Linked DNA regions of Homo sapiens. The protein of the gene in region 1 interacts with the protein of each later gene in a pairwise test. Each region holds a gene or a part of one and is shown on either strand. Other genes may lie near its edges. The genes, in order: DEXI and TBCD.

Region 1 (4,525 bases):
CTGAGAGGTTGACTTACCCAAGATCATGCAGTTAACAAGTGGCAAAACCAGGGTTCATAACCACGCACGCACCCTTATTTTTCATTCCCTTTATAAACCAAAACGGCACTAGATAACAACCTTATTTGTCCTGACAGCCTTTTTCTTTTTCCACTTCAATTAAGTGTGTGTGTGTGTGTGTGTGTGTGTGTGTGTGTGTGTGTGTGTGTGTGTGTGTGTTGGAAAAGGCTGGATGCAACAATGCACCAAACTGAACATTTTGTACTTCCAGAGGATTCCTCTGGTCTTCAGCCAGAATCCATGCTATTTCCCAAAGTACCACGTTAAAATGAAAAAGGAAACACCCAACTTTCTGCATGAGCCAGAATATATCTAACTTCTACCCTGGATTAGAAGTGGTAAGTTCAGTGTGGGCAAGACTTCTCAAGTTTACCATCCATTCATTCATTCAGTCACTTCTACATATCAACCTTATTAAAGGTCCACTGTGTCCCATTAACTCTGCTCAAGAAAGAACTGGGCCAGAGGCCAATGTTCTCCCCAGTGCCTAGCACAAGGTTTGGCACATAGCAGGTGTTTAACAAATATTGGTAGAGTGCATGAATGAGTAAAGGTTTGTTTCACCTTCAGCAGTTGGAGAAATGGATAAGAGTGGAGAGTTAATGGTTTGTCCTGTAATTCATATAGAGTGGGGCAAGACAAAGTCATGGAGCAAAAAAGAACAGGATCTGGCCTCCAAAGAAACACACCCAGGCTCAGAAATGTAGGATCCCTGGGCTCGTATTTTTCATCTGTAAAAAGTACGCACATACATACTACACTGCCTTGTATACCTCCGATTAAGCGATGCATGTAAAATACTCAGCTCAGTGTGGCCTGAGATTTAAAGGTTTCTTGAACTGCTTTGGAAGGCTCTTTGGGCGAGATCATGTTTTCCTGAAAGACATGCAACGGTTACCCAAGAGCAGGGGAACCAGTGGGTGGGAGAGACTCACTTTTCTGTGTACTTCACGGTTGTTTGAATGTTTAGCCATGTGTATTATTGCTTTTAAACATGATTCACAAAGTAAAAAGAAACAAAAAGCATCCTTATGGTTGAAGATCTGAACTACCTCGGAATCTCTTTATTCAGGTGTTCCTTAACTCTAGGATGCAGGTTCCGTAGTGGGCGGACCTTCCAGCAACCAGAGTTTGGAGAAGCGAAGGGGACACTGGTGGATCTCCACCATGAAAATTGGCGCTTTGGGAATGTCCAAAATTTCCAGGGCAACCGTCCGTCGCCCCTCCCCGACCCCGCCTCCTTTTAAAGGAGAAACGGAGTCCCAAAGAGGCATGCAGCAAGGTGCAGCGGTAGCCCGGGTTTCCTTCGGCTTTTGCGGCCTTAGCATTATGTCTAGGTTTGAACTGTGTTCAGTCTCTTTTACCTCCCCCTATTCGATACGCAGAGCGAATTCGATTTGAGATCTGAGGGCAGACCCGAACCAGGAAAGCAACTCAGACGCTAGGGCCCCGAGGGGCGGAGCGAAGCGGTACCCGCCCCCTGGCGGCCGGAGCCAATCAGCGCGGGCGTTGAGCCGGCCAATTAGCGCGTGCAGGGGGCGGCCTGCCAATGAGCTCGGGGCCCCTCGGGAGGCGGAGCTCCGAGCGCCACCGGGAGGGCTACGCGGCGGCCGCAGCCATGGGTGCTGGGCCTGCGGGGGCGCGGGGGGTGCGCGAGGACCTGCGGGGCGGGGCGGGAGAGAAGGCTGCCGGGACCGGCCCTAGACACTGAGCCGCGGTGGGATCCCCACCGGCTCTGCGAGGCCCTGCGAGCGCCAGGGAGGCGCCACGAGGGAGCCGGGCAGCCGCGGGCCACTTCAGGGGGGCCCGCCTCGCCGCCCGGGCGGTCGAGAGATCCTTGGGGGCACATCTCGGGGTGCGGTGACCCGCCCGGCGCATTTCGGGGGTCGGGGCGCAATTGCCAGGGGACATCTGGAGCCCGGCCCTGCTTCTGTCGGGCTCCAGGGTACCCCTGGATGGCTGCGCTGTGCCCTCGCCGGCCGCCCGGGCGCCGCAGCGGCTGAGTTCGCCGGGATCGCCGGGCCGCCGCCCTTGCCACCCGCTGCATGCTCGGCGCCCGGGTCGCGGCCCACCTGGACGCACTGGGCCCCCTGGTCCCCTACGTGCCGCCGCCGCTGCTGCCCTCTATGTTCTACGTGGGCCTGTTCTTCGTCAATGTGCTGATCCTGTACTACGCCTTCCTCATGGAGTACATCGTCCTCAACGTGGGCCTCGTCTTCCTGCCCGAGGACATGGACCAGGCGCTCGTGGACCTCGGCGTGCTCTCCGACCCCGGCTCGGGCCTTTACGATGCTGACTCGGAGCTCGACGTCTTTGATGCGTACTTGGAGTAGGGTCTCGACTGCTGTTCCCCTCTTCCCTACACGATCCGCAACCCATGCCCTGGACCAGCCGCCCAGATCATGCCGCCGCAGCTGGTTGGGGGCACCATCTGGACGGGGATGGTTCCCCAGGAGGAGACCCTCCCCTGCCTCCGAGGCCTGTAAGTGCCCTCTCTGAACAGGATGAGGGCGGGTTGGGGCGCTAGCAAGGGAGAGGGAGGAATTCCCAGGCCGGATACACACCCCTCCCTCAGGCTTCTCCTCCGTTCACCTCCTCCAGGTCTAACTGGATGCCAGGAATGGCCAGACTCCTCTTAAGCCCTTCGTTTGGGCTGGAAAGCTTCCTCCAGCAAAGGGGACAGCTGGTGAAAAGGAAGGAGACCCCGAGACTAAGTTACATTTGGGGTAGCTCTGTGACTTACCCCCAAAGCTTATGGAAAAAGCCTTCGCTCCCAAATCCATTTGAGGCAGAGCTGTCAGCTCCTCCTCCAGTCCTCATCCTGGCTTGATGATGACCTTGGCTTTTGGGGGATTCTCGCTTGTCCTAGAAGGATAAAGATTTAGGGGTGTCAGAAGACACAGGGAGCCAGGCACGAATCACCTTTGTACTGTGGCCCTTGGGGTAGCTGGGTGGGGATTAAGTGCAGGGGCTCTAGGCCAAAGCTGTGAGAGGAGAAATCGCAAGCAAAGAAGCCCGTACTTCCTTTTGGCCTTGGGTTTGCTGCTATTTTGGAGTCAGGTTTCAGGGTGCCCCAGCTCATCAGTTCTGCAGCTCAGAACTGCAGGGGCTGCCAGTTTTGTAGGCTCCCTTCACAGAACAGGCAGGCAGGGAGCTGGTGCCAGGGCTCGCTTTGTCTGCAGTGTTTGCAAGCGCTCAGGGGGCTCTTAGGTCCTCGGGAGAAGGCACCACAGGGTCATTGCACTGAGATGGTCAAGTCCTGTCTTTGGGGCTGTGACGAGGGAGCTTTGCATCCAGCATCCAGCCCACTGTGTATGTGAGAGGTAGGGAAATGAAGGTCCAGGAAGGAGTAAGACTTGGTCATAGTCACAAGGAAGAGAGGCAGCTAGACTCAATTAGAGAGAACACGTGAGCCAGACAAGCTGTCAGGCAGCTGCCAGGTCTGGTGAGGGTCACAGGGCAGGCAGGAACGCCTTGGCTCAGCCCCTGAGACTGGACAGTACTGGAGTGTCACTGGGCACAGGGTCTAAGTGGCAATGAAGAGGGGATGCTGAGATATGGTGGGCAAGGGCTCCTTTAGGAAAATGGACACTAATGCCATTCACCGCAAGCAGGCTGAGTCCACCCCTCTCCTGCATTACCTGGCTTTGCCAAGACAACCACAGGCAGAGGGTGTCTTAGTTCAGTCTGCTATAACAGAACACCATAGGCTGGGGGACTTAAACATTTATCTCTTACTGTTCTTATAAGGGCATTAATCCCACCCATGAAGGCTCTGCCTTCGTGACCTAATCACCTCCCTAAGGCCGCACCCCGCAATACCATCATTTGGGATCAGAGTTTCAACATATGAAGTTTGAGGAGACACAAACATTGAGTCTGTTGCAGATGGTGGTACAGGGTGGGGTAGGACCTACTGACAGCATAGCTGGCGGCAGAGGGCTCTCCTAATGGGTTCACAGTGAGATTTCTTTGAAGAAAAAGCTTCAGTTGAGCTCAGTAACATCTTAGCGAGAACCAAGTGCCAGGGGGAGTGTGTGCCAGGTGCTCTGCACACCTCCCCAGCCTGCCTGCCTGCCTGCCATCCATCCGTCCGTTCTTTTACAGAATGAATGCTTGTTGGTTCAGTACAGTGCCTGGTGATTGAACACAGTGAACAAGACAGACCAAGCCTTGGCCCTTTGGCACTTGGTGAGGAAGACTAGTAGGAACCCAAACAAGAGAATCAGATTTTTTCGGAACTATGAAGGCAGGCAAGAAGGACATGAGCTTCCCTGTTGTGTTCACTGCCATGTCCTCAACACTTAAAACTGTGCCTGGCCTCTAGTAGACGGTCTCTGTAGGTGTAGACATGGAGTGAAACAGAAGTGAAACGGTAGGATAGAGATGGTGGGCTGCTTTAGCTGAGGGGTCAGAGAAAGCCTCTCTAAGGAGATGATGCTTTTGAGCTGAGCCTTAATTTGAT
Region 2 (3,806 bases), on another chromosome or scaffold:
CAAGCTCTGCCACCCGGGTTCACGCCATTCTCCTGCCTCAGCCTCCCGAGTAGCTGGGACTACGGGTGCCCGCCAACACACCCAGCTAATTTTTTTTTTATTTTTAGTAGAGACGGGGTTTCACCTTGTTAACCAGGATGGTCTCGATCTCCTGACCTCGTGATCCGCCCGCCTCAGCCTTCCAAAGTGCTGGGGTTGTTTCTTCTTTTATCTGTTGATGGACATTTGAGTTGTTTCCGGTTTTTGGCTGTTATTAATAATGCTACTTTTTGGGAGGCTGAGGTGGGCAGATCATGAGGTCAGGAGATTGAGACTATCCTGGCTAACACGGTGAAACCCCATCTCTACTAAAAATACAAAAAATTAGCCCAGTGTGGCGGTGTGCGCATGTAGTCCCAGCTACTTGGGAGGCTGAGGCAGGAAAATTGCTTGAACCCGGGAGGTGGAGGTTGCAGTGAGCCGAGATCTTGCCACTGCACTCCAGCCTGGGTGATAGAGCGAGACTCCGTCTCAAAAAAAAAAAAAAAAAAAGTAATGCTACTGTGAAAATGTTTATGTACAAGTTTTTAGGTAGACAGAGGTTTTATTTTCTCTTGGGAAAATACGCATGTGTGGAATTGCTGAGTAGCAGAAAGTGTCTTACTTGTAGAAAGTGTATGACTTGGCCAGGCGCGGTGGCTCCTACCTGTAATTCTAGCACTTTGGGAGACTGAGGCAGGTGGATTGCCTGAGCTCAGGAGCTCAAGACCAGCCTGGGCAACATGGTAAAACCCCATCTCTACTAAAATACAAAAAATTAGCCGGGTGTGGTGGCAGGTGCCTGTAGTCCCAGCTACTCAGGAGGCTGAGGCACGAGAATTACTTGAATGTGGGAGGCAGAGGTTGCAGTAAGCTGAGATGACACCACTGCACTCCAGCCTGGGTCACAGAGTGAGACTCTGTCTCCAAAAAAAAAAAAAGTGTGTGACTCATCACCTGCCATACTGATGCCATGAAGATTGTACTGTTGACCATTTCTACCAACAAGGTATGAGGATTCCAGCTGCTCTGGGTTCTCTTCAGCACTCAGCGTTGCCAGTCTCTCTGATTTCAGGGAGTGTATCTCGTTGTGTCCTTCTCTGCGTTTCCCGGATGCCAGTTGCAGTTGTTTTCCATGTATGAAGACTTGCAGCCCAGCGTATGGTCTGTTTTGTTGAACATTCCGCGTGCACTTGAGAAAAATGTCTGTTCTGTTGTTGGGTAGATTGTTCTCTAAATGTCACGTAAGTAAGGTGGGTGATAGTGCTGTTTAGGTTTCAGCGATTTTCTCTTACTTGTTCTATCAGTTCCTGAAACAGGAGTGTCGAAGTTTTCAACCGTGTCTCCTTTCATTTCTCTCAGCTTCTTCTGTGCTTATTTTGAAGCTCTGTAGGTTGGTGTGTATACTTACAGAATTGTTAAGTCTTCATGATGAATTGATCCTTTTATTATCATGAAACATTCTGTTTATCTCTGATGGTAATGCTTGTTCTGACATTTACTTTGTCTGATATTAACAGAGCCACTCCAGCTCTTTTATGATTTGTGATTGGTTGGAATATCTTTTTCCTTTTGCTTACGTTTAACCTAGCTATGTCTTTTTGTTTGTTTTTGTTTTTTAAGAGACAGGGTTTTGGGCCAGGTGCGGTGGGCTCACACCTGTAATCCCATCACTTTGGGAGGCCGAGGTGGGTGGATCACCTGAGGTCAGGAGTTCGAGACCAGCCTGGCCAACATGGTGAAACCCCGTCTCTACTAAAAATACAAAAATTAGCCAGGCGTGGTGACGCGTGCCTGTAATTCCAGCTACTTGGGAATCTGAGGGAGGAGAATAGCCTGAACCCGGGAGGTGGAGGTTGCAGTGAGCTGAGATCACGCCACTGCACTCCAGCCTGGGGGACAGAGCAAGACTCTGTCTCAAAAAAAAAGAAAAAAAAGAGACGGGTTTTGCTCTGTTGCCCAGGCTGGAGTGCAATAGTAGGATCATAGCTCATTGCCGCCTTGAAATTCTGGCTTCAAATGATCCTCCCACCTTGGTCTCCCAAAGTGCTGGGAAAACAGGCATGAGCCACCACACCTGGCCGGCCTCAATGTCATGTTGATGTTCACTTTTACAGTAAATGTTTCCTATGTTTTTCCCTAGAATGGATGATGAACTTGTTGTTGGACATAGTGCAAGATCAGACATCTCCAGCTTCCCTTGTACATCTGGCTTTTAAATTTCTTTACATCATCACCAAGGTAACATTTCCATAGCACTTCAGAGTTGACAGATACTTTTGTAATATACTTGGTCCAGAGGTTACCCTCCAAAATGTTATTTCTCAAGAAAGATAGTTCTTAGACACAAGTTGTGGGTTTAATTCTGTCCCTTTTTACTGTATGTTGGGGATCAGAATTTAGTGATGTGGGCTCTTTGGCTGAAACAGTGTCAGGATATTCAGCATCTTGCATTTGAATAGATTGAAGCACTGTGTAGCTAGGAAGGGAATGGGGTGGAGATGAGACTAAATCAGAAAAACTTCTTACAAGGAGAAAGCAGGCCGGGTGCGGTGGCTCATGCCTGTAATCCCAGCACTTTGGGAGGCTGAGGCAGGTGGATCACCTGTGGTCAGGAGTTCGAGATGAGCCTGGCCAACATGGTGAAACCCCGTCTCTACTAAAAATACAAAAATTAGCTGGGCTTGGTGGCACATGACTGTAATCCCAGCTGCTTGGGAGGCTGAGGCGGGAGAATGGCTTGAACCTGAGAGGCAGAGGTTGCAGTGAGCCGAGATCATGCTGTTGCACTCCAGCCTGAGTGACAGAGCGAGACTCTGTGGAAATGGAAGTGCTTCTCACACTTTAATGTGCAGATGAATTTCCTGGGAATTTTGCTGTGCTATAGATTTTGAGCAAGTAGGTCTAGGCGGGGGTCTCATAGTCTGCTTTTCTTACAAGCTTGCGGGTGTCTGTGCTCATAGTCTGCTTTTCTTACAAGCTTGCGGGTGTCTGTGCTCATAGTCTGCTTTTCTTACAAGCTTGCGGGTGTCTGTGCTCATAGTCTGCTTTTCTTACAAGCTTGCGGGTGTCTGTGCTCATAGTCTGCTTTTCTTACAAGCTTGCGGGTGTCTGTGCTCATAGTCTGCTTTTCTTACAAGCTTGCGGGTGTCTGTGCTCATAGTCTGCTTTTCTTACAAGCTTGCGGGTGTCTGTGCTCATAGTCTGCTTTTCTTACAAGCTTGCGGGTGTCTGCTCATAGTCTGCTTTTCTTACAAGCTTGCGGGTGTCTGCTCATAGTCTGCTTTTCTTACAAGCTTGCGGGTGTCTGTGCTCATAGTCTGCTTTTCTTACAAGCTTGCGGGTGTCTGCTCATAGTCTGCTTTTCTTACAAGCTTGCGGGTGTCTGTGCTCATAGTCTGCTTTTCTTACAAGCTTGCGGGTGTCTGTGCTCATAGTCTGCTTTTCTTACAAGCTTGCGGGTGTCTGTGCTCATAGTCTGCTTTTCTTACAAGCTTGCGGGTGTCTGTGCTCATAGTCTGCTTTTCTTACAAGCTTGCGGGTGTCTGCTCATAGTCTGCTTTTCTTACAAGCTTGCGGGTGTCTGTGCTCATAGTCTGCTTTTCTTACAAGCTTGCGGGTGTCTGTGTGCTGGCCCAGAGGCTCACTGTTGGCAGTTTTGACTATGGAAGTACTCACAGCCGTCTCAGGGTGGGGCTTGGGGTTCGTAGTGGCGAGGCGCATTTCTGTTGTCTGGCGGGAAAGTCCTTGGCCAGCGAGAGGACACTGCGGGTGAGCTGCCAAGGACA

The links.
Region 2: the proteins of DEXI (region 1) and TBCD interact in a two-hybrid assay, tested with the Homo sapiens proteins (one large-scale study listed by IntAct).

The regions. Positions count from the first base shown.
Region 1 is NC_000016.10:10,939,586-10,944,110, reverse strand, and holds the start of DEXI (dexamethasone-induced protein), read left to right. Parts: upstream 1-1,642; 5' UTR 1,643-2,105; coding exon 2,106-2,393; 3' UTR 2,394-2,542; exon of another isoform or gene 2,543-2,925; intron 2,926-4,525.
Region 2 is NC_000017.11:82,761,804-82,765,609, forward strand, and holds part of TBCD (tubulin-specific chaperone D), read left to right. Parts: intron 1-2,161; coding exon 2,162-2,259; intron 2,260-3,806.